Regions from separate parts of the Homo sapiens genome. Here region 2 is linked to region 1. Evidence: fine-mapped expression QTL. A gene starts in region 1. The other region holds a variant in brackets. All regions are shown on one strand. Distances are from middle to middle.

The links. PIP is the estimated chance that this variant, and not a neighbour inherited with it, causes the effect.
Region 2: its variant is the best candidate, but not a certain one, in a credible set for the expression of SLC47A2 in prostate (GTEx, PIP 0.67).

The regions. Positions count from the first base shown.
Region 1 is chr17:19,712,761-19,721,083 of GRCh38, reverse strand. It overlaps SLC47A2 (solute carrier family 47 member 2), which reads left to right and starts at 4,500. Exons shown (of 17, transcript NM_001099646.3): 1 at 4,500-4,651; 2 at 5,867-5,968; 3 at 6,295-6,363; 4 at 7,111-7,259. The coding sequence starts at 4,529. It overlaps LOC124903948 (a long non-coding RNA gene), which reads right to left and starts at 6,738. Exons shown (of 2, transcript XR_007065659.1): 1 at 5,849-6,738; 2 at 1-3,710. RefSeq lists enhancers at 3,325-4,172, 4,173-5,022.
Region 2 is chr17:19,578,826-19,587,148 of GRCh38, reverse strand. It overlaps SLC47A1 (solute carrier family 47 member 1), which reads right to left. Exons shown (of 17, transcript NM_018242.3): 17 at 8,115-8,323. It also overlaps the pseudogene SLC47A1P1. Among named protein-coding and RNA genes, the nearest start is that of SNORA59B, 25 kb to the right of the region's middle. The variant C/T (reference allele first, on the strand shown) is at 4,283.

The sequences.
Region 1 (8,323 bases):
GGCAGCGGAGAGGGGTTAGAGGAAAGGACATTGGTCCACAGCCCTTGTGGTGCATGTCTCTGGGAGCCAAAGGGCAAATGCAACACCTTTGGGCCCAGTGAGGTGTAACCAAGTGAGAAAAGGTTAACAGAGGCCCTGGACCCAGACTGTACTTGGCAGGACTCCAGGAAATTAGTCACGTGAAGGCAGGGCCCAAGGACCTGGCCCTTGCCCCCAGCAGGCTCCGAGCCTGCAGGAGCTGAGCCCTCAAGTGAGGGGGACTTCCTGGCATGCCCACATGCCTCTTGGCTCTGCCTCAGCGAGGCTGCTGGGGCTGGGGGAGCAGCTCCCCCTGGGTCAAGCTTCCTCTTGCTGGCTGGGAGCCTCCCTAATCCCAGGGTGTGTGCTGGGGGCTTGCCAGGACTCTCCACTCCCTTGCCTCTCCCCGTGCCTCCTGCCATTCCTAGGATTTTGTAGCTTTGGGTCCTCCTTCCCCAAAGAGGTCCTCGATATGCGTGAGTCCTCTCATCACTGACCTCAGGGGTCTTTATCTGCTTGCCCTTGCTCGGGGCCAAGTGTGGACAGCGGGTGGCACAAGAGAGAGCAGAAGAGAGAATGGAGAGGGAGGAATAGAAAGGAGGAAGAGGAGAGTGCTGGTTAAAGGCATGGCCTCTCGGCCACTCCCACCTAGAAGTGGAGGCTGTTCCCTCTCCTGTGAAATTTGGGCGAGTCCATGATTAGCTGTGGTCAACAGGATGAGGCAGAGGGGCATGGGGACCTCCCAGGCTGGCTCTTGACCTGTATGCAGCTTCCACTTGCACCATCGAATGTCCTGTCTTCTGTTCCAGCTCCATGCTGAGATGCCCGTGGTGCACGGGGAGGTCACTCCATGCTGAGATGCCCGTGGTGCGTGGGGAGGTCACTCCATGCTGAGATGCCCGTGGTGCACGGGGAGGTCGCTCCATGCTGAGATACCCGTGGTGCATGGGGAGGTCACTCTATGCTGAGATGCCCGTGGTGCGTGGGGAGGTCACTCTATACTGAGATGCCTGTGGTGCGCGGGGAGATCGCTCCATGCTGAGATGCCCATGGTGCGTGGGGAGGTCACTCTATGCTGAGATGTCCATGGTGCGTTGGGAGGTCGCTCCATGCTGAGATGCCTGTGGTGCACGGGGAGGTCACTTTATGCTGAGATGCCCGTGGTGCATGAGGAGGTCCTATGAGGGGAGGTGGAGATGCTCCGACTGACAGTCTCAGCTGATAGCAGGCACCCACCGCGGCCTGGACATGAGCCTGGAAGACTGGCCAGCCTGGGCCAGTCCCCGGTGACTGCAGACACAGCTAGACTAGGGGAGGCAGAAGGACCACCCAACTCGCCGCACAGACTCATGACACAGATGATAATGGTTTTAAGACACCAATTTTGGGGGGGCTGGTAATAGATAAATGAGGCAGGGTGTGTAGCCATGTTTTCACTTTCATAGCATCCCATCCTCTGGGGGGCCCCCTGCCCCACTTCAGGTAGCTCACAGCTTCCCTCCTTCCCACCCTTTCCACCTCCATTCTTGTTCAGGTTGGCTCTTGCCCCAGTCTTCCAGGAATTTGCCTCTGGGACTGAAGGTGTTTGGGCTGAGTCACCTTTCCCTGAATCACCCTGAGAGTCCAGAGTCTCCCTTCTCAAGGCTGGCGGCTCAGCCCTCTTCTGTATCACCTGGCAATAATGATCTCCTCTCCCCCTTCCTCCCTTCTTCCATCTGCTGACATGATCCCAGTTCGTTTCTACTGTTTCCATCAGAGAACGTGGCTGACACGGCAACTGGCATCGGGAGAATGTCATAGGCCATGTGCCCCAGGAAATAAGGGCCTTGGAAACAAGTGATCAGCTGAGAAGGGAAAGGGTCCAGCATCGCCCGGACTTGCTTGTATATTCTAGGGGATTGGCAGCCCTGTTCCTGAGAGTGAGCTGCTGATCCGTCTGTTGTGTGCAGTATCTGAGACCACAGAAGATGCAGGACTGAAGGGTGGCATGTTGCTCCTGACAGCATTGGAAGCTCTGGAGAGAGGGCAGAGGCTGAAGTCTCGGAGGCTCCCCCCGCCCCAGCCACAGGATGGCGCACAGGGGCCATGTGCAGCTCCGCTCAAAGTATCTCAGGTTCCGGGGCAGAATCCTGGAAAACCCAACTCGGAGCTGAGTCTGCAGGTGGCTGCAGGGCGGTGCTGCTGAGTCTGCAGTTACCACCACAAAAGGAGGGCCTGAAGGCATTGCCAGGAGACTATGGAGGACTCACGGAGCTCTGACACCCCTCACCTGGAGGAGGTGGCTTCCCCCCACCCCCCACTCTGCCTGCACCACCTTTGCCTGGGGCGGCCAATGCATGGCAGTGGAGTCAGTAATCGCCCTTGCTCCTCCCCAGGGTCAAACCCACTGGGGTCTGGGGATTGAAATTCTGAGAGGAGTGTAGGAGGAGAGTGTCTTCCCGAAGAAAATGTAGGAATGCATTGGCTTCTATCACAAAAATCCTGGGAATGTTCCTGAGAAGGGATTTTGGAGATGCTCGGCCTAGGACTGGCCCTCGGGAAGATGACCCGACCTTTGTCCTGTGCAGCTGAGTGCTGAACACTGGTCAGCTCTGGATAAAGCCTGATGTCACCGAGCTGATGGCGGGGCGTCTGCACTGAACACCTTCCAGCTTGGTGGGGGCACGGGAACCAGCTGTCCTCATTAAAAGTGACCTGGAGTGAGATGGATTCTTCTGCCTATACCTCCACGTGTGGGCTCCCTGAACACCCCCATCGCCATGGGCTCCCAAGAAGTATTGCTTCTGGCTGCAGGGCTCACTGCAATGCTGCGACAGGAGGTGACAGGCCAAGGCCAGCAGGTGACTGCTCTCCCCAGAGGCCCTGTCAGCTGGAAGCAGCTGGTTTCACATAACAGAGACCCCAGGCCCAGGTCCCCTGGATGCAGGAGGATTTGCGGCTGCCCTTTTGGAAGAGGTAGGCTGACCATGAGAACTGGCCAAAGGTGAGAAGGACGTGGAGAAGGTGTTGGAGGAGGGAAGTCAGACATACTAGCAATAGCCTGGCCTGCAGGGCTGTAGCTTTCACCTGTACTTCCTCCTGTTTGGTGTCATCATCACAATCACGATGGTGATAAAATGTCTTCTTTCCTCTAGGCAGGTGGTAAAGGTACTATTTGGTGCACAGGTTGGAGAGTGCTGTGATAAGAACCATCAGAACAAGGGCAGGAATGTGACCTCCCAGGTGATCCTGGGAGGATCCAGTGGAGCGTTTCAGAATTCTGTGTCAAAAAAGAAGGCTGCGTGTTGACTGGGGTGGGGCTGTGCCTGTGTTTGGGGCCGCCCATGGGTGTAGCAAACCCTTTTTTTTTTTTTGTATTTGTCCTGCCTCCTCTCCTTCAGGGTCTGCTCCTTCCTCCTCGCGGCTCTGGGGGCTGCATCTCGGAATCCTGCCGGCCACTCCTCCGCTGCAGGGGTGGACATGGGAACCAAGTGGGGCCTTTGGGATGTCTTCAGCCCTCCCACAGCCACTGGCCAGCCTGCCTGCTGTCTTCCTGCCCCCCTCGCTCACTCCTCCTTCTCCTGGGCTGAACCACACCCAAAAGCTTGATCCAGGACTGGGCTAGGTGACCGGTGCAATCCTTAGATGCCTCTCTTGGTTCCCACTGCCCTGCTGGTCTTGAGGCAGGTTGAGGGGGGAGTCACAGGCCATCCCTGCAAGGAAAAGCAGAGAGGGCAATTTGGGAAGGTGACAGAGGACCCTGTGGGACGTCGAGTCACAGCCTTGCTGGGCACAGTGACTGGCGTGCATAGTGAGCTGCTTTCCCAAGCACTGCCACCCCTGGCTCTCAGATATGCTGCTGAAAGGGGTGACGGGCAGTGGGGGGCTTGGGACTCCGCCGAGGTGTCCTAGCTCCCATCCCTATCCCCAGGCCCAGGCCCAGGCCCCTCCAGCATGAAAGGCTAGGGACCGCACTGCCATGGGGTTTGCCAGGCCCCTGTCTCTTGGGAAGCCACCCCTCCCAGGGAAAAGCAGGGCTGAGGGCTGTTCAGGCTCTGCCACCACCTGCTCTGTGACTTCGGGCAGGCCACCAATTCTTCTGAAAAACGGGAGTCACTGTGGGCACCATCACGCCCGGGTACAGGACGCCCAGTGGCTCAGCTGCCCCAGCCAGGCTGCCCTGTCCTGGCCTCAGCACACCTCCCACAGCCACTGCAGGCAGCCCTGGACCTTCTCCTGCTGAGGCCTTACTGCCAATCCCTCTGGGAGACCAGACACAACAGGCAGCGGTCTGGGTGACTCCCAGGAACCTGTCCTCCCTAGTGGCTGAGGCAGTAGGCTTGGCAGCAGGGACTCAGTGCCCTAGGAGGCAGGGCTCATCCCACAAGTTGCCATGGTAGCCCCTCCTCCTGCCCCTTACTCATCAGCCAGGCTGTACCGACACGGGCTGCCCAGGCAGGGGGTGGCTCGCTGGACAAAGCTGGCCGTGCAGGCGCTCAGGCGTGCAGGGTAGCCAGTGCCCCGGCCAGGAATGGACAGCCTCCAGGACACAGTGGCCCTGGACCATGGGGGCTGCTGCCCTGCCCTCAGCAGGCTGGTTCCCAGAGGCTTTGGGACTGAGATGTGGACTCTCTTTGCCCTTTCTGGACCCCTGGTAAGGAGGAGGAGCTGGGGGGCAGGTAGGGAGTGGAGGAAGCTGAGAGGCTGAGGGTGTCTGCCTTGCAGGCAGGATCCAGAAATGTGCTCACATTTTCCCCAGAAACTGCCCATGTTGACTGCCAGGTCCAGAGTCTGGGGACAGCAGGATGGCTCCTGAAAGCTGTCTCTGGACAATCCCCAGTGGCAGTGGGGCCTGACTTTGCTCAGCAGCAGGCAGCCCCCACACAGAAGGGGTGGGTGTGCCTCAGCTGGAAACCCACAAAAGCCTGAGTTGGAAGATGGCTCCAGGACAAATGGGACCCAGAGATGCATGAAGCCTGCAGCACCTTCGCAGGGGGAAGAAGGGGCCGGCTACCCATTTCATTTCCAAAGGGGAAATTGTTTTAAATACATTTATTTTTTCTGATCATGAAGAGGAATAGGCTGGGCGTGCTGCCTCACGCCTGTTATCTCAGCACTTTGGGAGGCCGAGCAGGGAGGATCACCTGAGGTCAGGAGTTGGAGACCAGCCCGGCCAACATGGAGAACCCCCCGACTCTACTAAAAATACAAAAATTAACCAGGCATGGTGGCGGGCGCCTGTAATTCCAGCTACTTGGGAGAGAGAGGCAGAGAATCGCTTGAACCCGGGACGGGTAGGTTGCAGTGAGCCGAGATCGCGCCACTGCACTCCAGCCTGGGCAACAAGGGCGAAACTCCGTCTCAAAAAAAAAAAAAAAAACAAAAAAAACAAAACCAAAAAGGAGTAATGGAATTGCACTTCCTGTAAAACTTTTAGAAAAAAATGAAAGATATAAAGAAGAAAGAAATTTAACTCAAATCCTAGTACTTGGAAATAGCCATTACTAAGATTTTGGTGTATTTAATTCCCCTCCTTTTTTGGGGGTGTGCGGCCTGACCAAATTATTGTTATAATAGGAACTGCAATAGCAGTATCAGACACTTGGGTCAAGCTCAGGGCGCCAGGCACTGCGCTGCGCCAGGCACTGACCCTTCTGGGTAGGGACGTGGAGGCCAGGCGTGACTGCAGCTGCAGAACGCAGAATGGGAGCTGGGCTAGGTCATCCGACCTCCAGCCCTGGCTTCCCCAGGCGTAGGTGACCTCTCGGGGCACTGGTGCGGGGCCCTCAAAGCTGGAGAGGCCTGTCTTGCAGGGCTCGGCTGTGTGGGCACCTGTGGCCCCGAGTCTGACCTGGCCGCTGTCCTCCAGTTCCTGTTCCAGGTGCTGACTTTTATGATCTACATCGTGAGCACTGTGTTCTGCGGGCACCTGGGCAAGGTGGAGCTGGCATCGGTGACCCTCGCGGTGGCCGTGAGTACCCAGCTTGGCCCAGAGCAGGGACGTTCTCTCCCCAGGCTTCTCCACCGGGTTCCCGGGTGGGCCCGTCTTGGGTGGCTGGTCAGGGATGGGAAGACACAGCCCACGTGGCTGGACAGCTGCCTTCACAGGTGGAACCTGAGGGCCGGAGATGGAGGCGGTCTGGCCCTGGGGCACACAGCACATGAGGCTGCTGAGCAGAGCCTCTGCCACCGCTGCCTGCTGGGCAGCATTTCCTGACCCTGGCTCAGCCCAGATGCAGGGGCCTCTCTTCAGGCCTCACCTGACAAGCTCTTGTTTCCTCCTGTGTGTGGCGCCAGTTTGTCAATGTCTGCGGAGTTTCTGTAGGAGTTGGTTTGTCTTCGGCATGTGACACCTTGATGTCTCAGGTGGGTGGCCTCCTGGAGCTGGGCAGGAAGCCAGGCAAGGGCAGAGCCAATTCCACAGGTGCCATGGAGATGGCAGGTGGGAGGGGCGCAGCCAGGTGATCTGGGAGCAATGGGCCCTGGGGTCAGCTGCCCCTGCCCTACCTCCAAGGACCACAGGCTGTCAGGGAAACAGACCCTCCCCTTTGAAAGAGTCTGGGCCAGGAGAAAGGGGTGGAGATGGTGGAGACAGTTCTCTGATCTCTTGCCCCCAGAGGAGGTCACCAAGTAGAGAAAGACAACCGGTTCCCCAGCCTCAATCCTAAGTTCGGCTGCCTACATGCAGGCATGTGTCGAAGGCCAAGGGGACACAGAAGGAACCTCCCTGCTTGCAGGGGCCTGCAGTCCAGCAGGGGCTGCCCAGGTGGCCATGGGGTCACAAAGCGGCAAGGCCTCACCTCTCCCTGGGGGTTTTAGCTTCACGGTGGACCTGGGCTTTGTCCTGGCTCCACTTAACCTGCCGCTGACATGTGATGAAGCCCCATGTGCCTTCGTCCTCCTTGGAGCTTTGGAAGAACAGTGGAGACAGTGGTAGGCCCAGGCTCAGGAAGGCCGCTGTGCCATTACAGGCTGCGGGCGCCAGGCTGTGGTCACCAGAGGCCGCCGGGTCCGCCACACACCGCTGGCGCCGCTGACAGCCCGCTCCCCGCGCGGGATTTAGGAATGTCCCGGGCAGTGGAAACGGCTGACGCGGGGCGGGCTGTTTTGCAGAGCTTCGGCAGCCCCAACAAGAAGCACGTGGGCGTGATCCTGCAGCGGGGCGCGCTGGTCCTGCTCCTCTGCTGCCTCCCTTGCTGGGCGCTCTTCCTCAACACCCAGCACATCCTGCTGCTCTTCCGGCAGGACCCGGACGTGTCCAGGTGCGCTGGGCTCCGGCTGGGGAGGTGGGGCTTGCTGGGAAACCCGGGCCGCCGAGGGAAACCCTGAAGATGCCCAGCCCTCACACCCCATGCTTCTCTAGGCCACGAGTGCTCACAGTGCACGGTGCCTGTGGGTACCTTCCAGGCTTTGGTTTGGGGATTCTCCCCATGGCTGCGGCTCCAGCAGTGACCAGCAGGGACAGAGGCGGACAAACGCCCAGTTTTAATTTAGAAGGCAAGGCAAGAAACAATTTGGGATTTGCATTTTATTTGCATTTGTGTGCCCGGACACAGTTGGAGCTTTACAGATGCTTTCGAAGAAATGAAGTGTGTGCATTTTCCCATATTCCGAAAAGGAGAAAGATGACAACCACTTTTTGATGAATTATAGATGATGATGATGATGATGATTATTATTATTATTATTATTATTACTTGAGACAGAGTCTCGCTCTGTCGCCCAGGCTGGAGTGCAGTGGTGCAATCTTGGCTCACTGCAACCTCTGCCTCCCAGGTTCAAGTGATTCTCCTGCTTCAGCCTCCTGAGTAGCTGGGACTACAGGCACGTGCCACCACACCAGGCTAATTTTTGTATTTTTAGTAGAAACGGGGTTTCACCATGTTAGCCAGGATGGTCTTGATCTCCTGACCTCGTGATCCACCTGCCTCAGCCTCCCAAAGTGCTGGGATTACAGGCATGAGCCATCGCACCCGGCCTATAGTTTATTATTAAATTTATTTTATAATAAATCCCTCTCATAGGGATGCCTTGTTCATTTATATTATGTACATTTCATTTGGTTATTCCTTTTTAAGATATAACCTTTTTTTCTTACGAACCACGTTACTCTGAATTTAAGTTCCCTCATCCTGAGGCCTGGGTGTTTGGGTGTTTCGGCTGCCCCTCCTGGCACCTGCTTACCATCTGGAAGCAGCAGCCCCTGATGCTGAGGTTTCACAGTCCTGGCTGAGACCCTGGGACAGCGGCCGAGCACCCAGTCCTGGAGGACACAGGGGAGAGGGCCCTGCCTCCCCGGGCCACAGCCTGGTCAGCTCCGGAGCTT
Region 2 (8,323 bases), 130 kb after region 1:
TTAAAAAGATGCTCCATGACTTACAATGGGCTACCTAGCTACCTCACAACTGTAAATTAGAAATATCTTGAGTTGAAAATGCATTGAATGCATCTAACCTACCAAACATCACAGTTTAGCCTGGCCCACTTTAAACGTGCTCAGAACACTTACATTAGCCCACAGCTGAGTAAAATAATCTTAGATAAAGCCTATTTGTGATACAGTGTTGACTATCTCATGGAATCTACTGGACGGTACTGAAAGTGGAAAGCAGAATGGTTGTAAGGGGCTTGAAGTGCAGCTACTGAACGCGTGTCACTGTTGTACCATCACAAAGTTTAAAAATCTAAGTCAGGGACCATCTGTATTTGACAAATAAAATGCAACAAAACCCATAGGGTGGATGGTCCTAGAAAGTCTCTATTATGAAAGGTAACTGTCAAAAAACGGTATGTGGGGGAGGGTGGTCCTCACCTGAGACATGAGGGTGTCATAAGCTGAGGCTAAGCCAGTGCCAACTGCAATCCCAGTAACGTTCACCACCTGCAAGAGAACCACAGACCTGGTGTGGCAGACCTTCAGGGGACGACGCCAGTTCAGGGTCGCATCAGACAGCTCCCTCTTCATGGAGGAACCTCAACAAGCTTGTCTCTAAAGGGCAACTCAACAGATGTATGCTGTATTTTAGATCAAATGGGTGTCTACATCTATCCTTATTGATTACTGAACAAAAGTGTACCTTCTAACTAAAGGATGATAACCACCTTGTGTCAACTGGGGAAATATTAAACCTAGTTTTTCTTAAACAGTATAGCACATTATAATTTCTATATTTAAGGTTAAATTGTGGGCCAGGTGCGGTGGCTCATGTCTGTAATCCCAGCACTTTGGGAGGCCGAGGCAGGTAGATCACTTGTGGCCAGGAGTTTGAGACCAGCCTGACCAACATGGTGAAACCCCATGTCTACTAAAAATACAAAATTGGCCGGGCATGGTGGCGGGCGCCTGTAATCCCAGTTACTCGGGAGGCTGCGGCAGGAGAATCACTTGAACCCCGGAGGTGGAGGTTGCAGTAAGCCAAGATCATACCATTGCACTCTAGCCTGGGTGACAGAGTGAGACCCTGTCTCAAAAAAAATAAAAAATAAATAAAGTTAAGTTGTGGTTAACATCTAAAGGTGATGCCCCGATCTGCCAGTAGGATGTGCATTTAGTAATAATAACAGCAAACTTTTATTGAGCACATACTATGTGCCAGGCACTGTCCTAAGCCCCTCATGTGCATAGTGCTAGGACAACTCGTCTCATTTTTTGTTTTGGGTAACCTGAGTTACACAAAGTGTATGTCCCTTGCCCAAGTTACTCAGATGGTGACCTAAGTCTGGGAAGTCTGGCTCCAGATCCCAAGCTTTAGTCCTCCAGTGAGGAACAGGACTAGTTGTGTCACCCTCTTGACCAGACCTCACCCAGTCCCTGACAATTAAGGGCACATAGAGTAGCCTGCAGGTAGGGTGCAGGAGGCATTCAGGACGAGGGGCTGAAAGACCCTCATTTGCGTCCTGGGTCTCACGGTTACTGGTGATGGCAGCCCCAGGTGAGTTAGCTTCTTCACTGACCACGACTCTGGCTTGATAAACACAAACTCCAGCCCCACCACATAACTGACAGGCCATACATGTACTGCCCAGCGGGACCCCATGAGACCAGGGTCTCCATCTAACCGTGCCCCAGGAGGGCTGTGGCACAATGAGGATTTACCCACACAGCAACACTGAATTCCAGCCAGGGCAGAGGGGCATGACTAAAGCTCCCAAACCCCTCGGACTGCCAGGAAAACAGAAAGGTAAAGCATGCTAATTTATGAAGTTTTGTGTTTTAAAAAGTCACACAGAGCTGGGCACGGCGGCTCATGCCTGTAATCCCAGCACTTTGGGAGGCCGAGGTGGGCAGATCACTTGAGGCCAGGAGTTCAAGAGCAGCCCGGACAACATGGCAAAACCCCATCTCTAGAAAATACAAAAATTAGCCAGGAGTGGTGGTATGCACCTGTAGTCCCAACTACTCAGGAAGCTGAGGCACAAGAATTGTTTGAACCTGGGAGGCAGAGGTTGCAGTGAGCCAAGACTGCGCCCCTGCACTCTAGCCTGGGCAACAGAGCAAGACTCTGTCTCAAAAAAAAAAAATATGTCACATAGGAGTGTAGGGGGATGGGGGGGATAGGGAGAGATGTGTTAAAGGATACAAAGTTACAGTTAGGCAGAAGGAATAGGCTCCTGTGTTCCACCACACTGCAGGGTGACTGCAGGAAACAATCACAGATAGCTTCAAATAGCTGGAAGGATACTGAAGCCTGGGCAACATGACCAGACCCCATCTTTACAAAAATTTTAAAAATTAGTTGGACATTGGCCGAGTGTGGTGGCTCACGCCTGTAATCCCAGCACTCTGGGAGGCTGAGGCAGGTGGATCACCTGAGGTCAGGATTTCGAGACCAGCCTGGCCAATACGGTGAAACCCTGTCTCTACTAAAAATACAAAAATTAGCTGGGTGCGGTGGCACATGCCTGTAGTCCCAGCTACTCAGGAGGCTGAGGCAGGAGAATCGTTTGAACCCAGGAGATGGAGGTTGCAGTGAGTCACTGCACTCCAGCCTGGGTAACAGAGTGAGACTCTGTCTCAAAAAAAAAAATTTTTTTTGCTGGACTTGGTGGCACACAACTGTGGTTCTAGCTACTTAGAAGGCTGAGGTGGGAGGATCACTTGAGCCCAGGGGTTTGAGGCTGCAGTGAGCTATGATTGCACCACTGCACTCCAGCCTGGGTGACAGGGCAAGATCCTGTCTCAAAAAAAAAAAAAAAAAAGAAATAAAAGAAAAGAAGATATTGAATATTCCCAACACAGAGAAATGAGAAATGTGTTACTCTCCCCCGGGGCTCAGTCTACCCATGTAAAGCAGGACCATGGCCTTGGGCCCCGTGGCTTCTGCTGTCACAAGCTTTTATCAAACTGAGCTCTGACGTTAGACCTCTCGCTTACAACACACAACTTTATAAAAGATAGAACAAAAATTGCTACTCTGTCTCTGGCGACAAGCAGCCCAGAACACCACGCTCCATGTCATGGTGTCTGCCTTCTGAAGGTCAAGGGGAATGTGGCTGAGGCTCAGTACCCAGGCCCGCCCTTCCGCTGAATCAAGGCTTCCATAAAACCTCAGCACAGTTTCCATCCTATCCCATGCCAACTCACCCCTGGCTCCCAGCTTTTCCACCCATGTTTCTTTGACCCAATTCTAACAGCTATTTATTTATCCTTCTTTTAGGGAAGTATTTGTGTAAACTGGTTCAAATTCTTCGTGGAACAAGGTGGACTATAAATAAATGTTCCTTTATTTAAAAAAAAAAAACACATTTTTATTAGTCCTTTTATACTATGAACATTTTTCCAAAGGTAAAAAATTTTGTTTTCACAGTTATCTTAAAAATGAGTCTATTATCTTCCTAGAAGATCTCACTGCAACCTCCGCCTCCCGGTTTCAAGAGATCTCCTGCCTCAGCCTCCCAAGTAGTTGGGATTACAGGCACCCACCACCATGCCTGGCTAATTTTTGTGTTTTTAGTAGAGACGGGGTTTCGCCATGTTGGTCAGGTTAGTCTTGAACTCCTGACTTCAGGTGATCCGCCCGCCTCAGCCTCCCAAAGTGCTGGGATTACAGGTGTGAGCCACCACGCCATGCCTAACCACAGGAATTTCTGTAGCCCGTTCCTGATAAGGGGCTCTGCGCTCTTCCGCCTTTGGCCAAGGGCAGTGGTAGGTCAGCTAAGTTGTCAAGACAATTTTGGCCAACATGGTAAAACCCCGTCTCTACTAAAAATACAAAAATTAGCCAGACACGGTGGTGGGCGCCTGTAATCCCAGCTACTCAGGAGGTTGAGGTGGGAGAATTGCTTGAATCTGGGAGGCGGAGGTTGCAGTGAGCTGAGATCTCACCACTGCACTCCAGCCTAGGCAATAGAGCAAGACTTCATCTCAGGAAAAAACAAAAACAAAAAAAACACAAAAAAACAAAACAGCAGAGTCAGCTTGACTAGTGCTGTCCTCTGGGGCCACCTGCTCAAGGGCATTTTGTCCTTTGTTCCTCCCAGTCTGGTCTCCCATACCCTAAAATCGCCCTCCCTTACCACCACCCCTCCTTCCCTGCTGGCCTCCTTCAAGCCAAGCTTCTTGAAGGTGTTCTTTGCACTCGGGCCTGGCCTGCACTCCCGACTCAGCCCCTATTGATGCCTTGTTTATTCCTGCCCAG[C/T]CCACTGGGCCTGGCCTCTTCCCGGCCTCCTATGACAAAATCCTCAAGTGAGCGCTTGGCCGTCCTTAATCCACTTGGCCATCCCTGCTTTCTAGAGCACTGCCTTGGCCTCCATGACCTCCCGCCCCCCGAAGTTCTTGCCACCCTGCTAGCTGCCCTTCTCAGCCTACAGTGTGTGCTTTTCTTCCACTGCACCCTCCCCGGGTATCCCTGGCCCTCAGAGTCCCCCACAACTTCACCTTCTACCATGGCACATGTTCTCCTGCAGCATCTGTCTGCCTCCCATGTTGAAAACTCTCTTTTAAGCTTCAGTTTCTGCTACCTCTACCCTCCATGTTAACAGTCCCAGCTCCTGGGAGCAGGGACACATTGTCCCAGGACACGTGTAAAATGCCACAGGGGCCAGCTAGCTCACTGGTTGTCCCTGGCTCAGAAGCTCCCCCAATGCTGTCAGCTGTTGGTGGGGAGGGCGGGAGCAGATGATGGGAAACCGGTCTGCCTGGGCGCCGGGCAGGCGCCCCTGGGAGGGGTTGCTTGTGGCGCAGGCCCCCAGCCTCGGCCTGCCTGGCATATGCTGTTAGCAGTGCATTTGTTTTCTCAAGTCCTTTGGAGGCAAGAACCTCAAGCGCGTGGGGATCATACTTCAGAGAGGGGTCCTCATCCTTATGCTGTGCTGCTTTCCCTGCTGGGCCGACTTGGTCAACACCGAGCGCATCCTCCTGCTCTTAAAACAAGACCCGAAGTCTCCAGGTGAGGTCCCCTGTTTCCCAATCCTAGGTTAAGAGTAGGTGGCTATCTGGTCATTGTACCTGTGTGGACATTTTCGGCCAATTACATGGTCTTGATCCCTTTCAAAAATGAAAGCTGTGACTGTGGGTCACAGAGTCGAGCCCACAGCCCCAGGGATGACAGCAGAGGCGGGGAGAGGAGAAGAGTGGACACCCAGATGCTGAGGTCCTCTTGAACAAGGTGGCTGACTGGCCATTAGATGTCATCCACATGGAGGAGTGACCGATGGCCCAGAAGTGAGCCCAGGGAGCACCCTGGGGGCAGTGATGGTTGGCAAGCAGTAATCAGAAAAGGTGGACCCCAATCCTGGGCCCTGCGGGGACACAGCAGGAAATTTCCCTGCCAGTCTTAGATCATCATCCTGTTAAGGTAGAGGCCAAGCTCGTCTTTCCCGGTGGGGACACTGGAGCAGCCATGTATACGAATCTCCTCTGCCTTCATGCCTCTTCCTAGAGTCCCAGTCTAAACTTTCAAAGGAAGCAAAAATGTCCCTTAATCCAATACGTTCACCAAATAACAGACCTGTAAATAAAATGTGTGACTGATTCCACCTGGCAAGGTCTTGGCTCCCATGTAGCTGAATGAGAAGCTCCGGTGGCCCTCCGTGTTCTTAGGGTGTGTACCCATCTCACGGGGACACAGGGGACATTTTCTGAGACTAGGGAAAGCCGCCTACCATCACCAGCAGAAGTGTTTTCCACTTTCTCTGAAAGCCTGGATGAAATGCAGGAAGAAACAACTTTCCACATCACTAACAAAAGCCAGGGAACAGACGTCCCAGGAGGTGTGATTTCAATCCATGGGAGAGGCTTTTCCACAAGGGTGAAAGGGTGGGAGCTGAATGTACTGTGTAATCCAATTAATGGCAAACAACCTAAATTACCTAAAAGTCTCCTGATTTAATTTCATAATAGAAAAAAGTGCAGTTATTTCAGTTTTACACTTTTCTAAGTATTGACACGAGCTCCTTCCAAATCTAATCAGGTAATGGTAAGCCACAGGTCAGTCCCAGACCTGTAAAGGAAGATGCATAAGACATGATACAATTCAAACTGATTTTTTTTTCTTTCCTTTTTTTTTTTTTTTTTTTTTTGAGACGGAGTCTCCTTCTGTTACCCAGGCGGGAGTGCAGTGGCACAATTCCGGCTCACTGCAACCTCAGGCCCCTGGGTTCAAGCGGTTCTCGTGCCTCAGCCTCCCAAGTAGCTGGGATTACAGGCCCGTGCCACCACACCCGGCTAATTTTTGTATTTTTAGTAGAGACGGCGTTTTCCCATGTTGGCCAGGCTGGTCTCAAACTCCTGACCTCAGGTGATCCGCCTACCTCGGCCTCCCAAAGTGCTGGCTGGGATTACAGGCGTTAGCCACCGCGCCCCGCCCTGTGTGTTTGTTTTTGAGACAGGGTCTTGCTCTGTTGCCAAGGCCGGGGTGCAGTGGTGCGGTCTCAGCTCACTGCAGCCTCGATCTGCTGGGCTTAAGCGATCCTCCTGCTTCAGTCTCCCGAGTAGCTGGGACCATAGGCGGTGCCACCACGCTGGGATAATTTTTGTATTTTTAGTAGAGACGGGGGTCTTGCTATGCTGCCCAGGCTGGTCTCGAACTCCTGAGCTCAAGCGATCCTCCCACCTGGGCCTCCCAAAGCGCTGGGATTACAGTCGTGAGCCACAGCGCCTGGGGACACCGCTCAAATCCTAACCCTTGGCCGCCCGTCGGCTCCTACAGGGGCGAAATCAGGCACCCACCGTGACGGCGAGCGTGACAGCGTCCGGCTCGACCTTGCCCAGATGTCCACAGAAGATGGAGCTGACGAGGCTGATTATAAAGATCATCAACTGCGCAAGAAACTGCGGAGGCGCGGAAAGCAAGGCGCGTTCACAGCCGCCCTCCCTCCTGGAAGCCCGCGCCCACCCCTGCGCGGCGGCCGCTCCGGAGGCGTCGGGCTGGGCGTGAGGACGCCGCACTCACCACTGGGCCCGCGAGCGCCGCCAGCTCAGCCGCCTCCCCCCGCAGGTCCGGGGGCAGCGCACCCCGCAGGCCCCACAAGCCGTCACGCCATCCGAGGGCCCGGAGCCGCTATGGGGGCCGGTCCTTGGCGGCGGCGGGGAGCTCGGCGGGGACCGGGGCGTCGGCGGCCGCAGGGGCCTCCATGCGGAGGCTGGGAGCGGCTGGCGGCGGCGCGGGCGCGGGACCGCAGCGCGGTGTGGGGGTGAGGGGGGCGACCCGATCCCACCCAGCCCCGCCCCTCCCCGTCCCGGACCCGCTCCAGACGCCCAGGGCAATGGTCGCCGCCCGCAGAACTCTGGGGGAGGGCACCGGGAGGGCCCTTGGGGGCTTATGAAGGGGGCTCGGGGAAGGGGTCCCTGCGTGAGAGGACCCCTCGTGTGCTTTTGGATGACACGGGTTTTTATCAGGAGAGTTTGTAGGTCAGGTTGGAAGAGCAAAATGCCTAGAGGGTGGGCAGACAGGACTGAGCTGGTGATTCCATCCTCCCGCGGAGCACAGGGCTGGCGCTTTCTGGCATGCTTCTGGCCTGGGCTTGCTGCGGGTTCAGTGTTTCCGGGAGAGGAGGGGTCCTGCCTCGCAGGGACCCCAGCCTCCCTGCTCCTGGCGGCCCGGGGTGGCCTCCTGGCCGCGGCTATTTGTGGCTGGTGGTTGAAAGAACCTCCTCTTATCCCCAGGGGGTCCCTGCCCTACCTGGCAAGGGGAAGGGCAGGGAGTCCTGTGCGAGGGGAATGGAGACAGGGTTCGAGGGTTCCTGACGAGGAGCTGGGGAGGGGCCTCTGTGGTGTCTGCCCCCTGCCCCCAGGCCCAACCCCGAGGGCCACAGTGCAAGCCTTTACCTGCCTTCCTGGAGAATGGGCCTCGTGGCCCCAAGAACAAGGCACTGAGGGTAGAGATACCTTAAGGTGGCCCCAACCAAAATCAGCAGTTGGGTGTTTTTTACTCAAAGTAGGTAACTTTTCTGATTTTGTTATTTCAGGAAAAGGCCATGCCTAGAGCATTATATCCATCCTAGCACTAAGTCAAAAATGTAGAGGCAAAATCTCTATTTAATGTTTTATTTTGGAAGAAAGAATTGCATGTTCAGGGCATCCATGTAGACCAGTTGGTCCTCGGTATGTCGGAACAACACAGAGAAGGCTGGAGGTTTTATCAAAAGAAATGTCAGTATTGCTCTTTGAGAAAGTTTATTGGCACCAGGAAGGGTGTTGGGAGCTGGCAAGCTACAACTGGTGAGCAACCGGGCAGGCA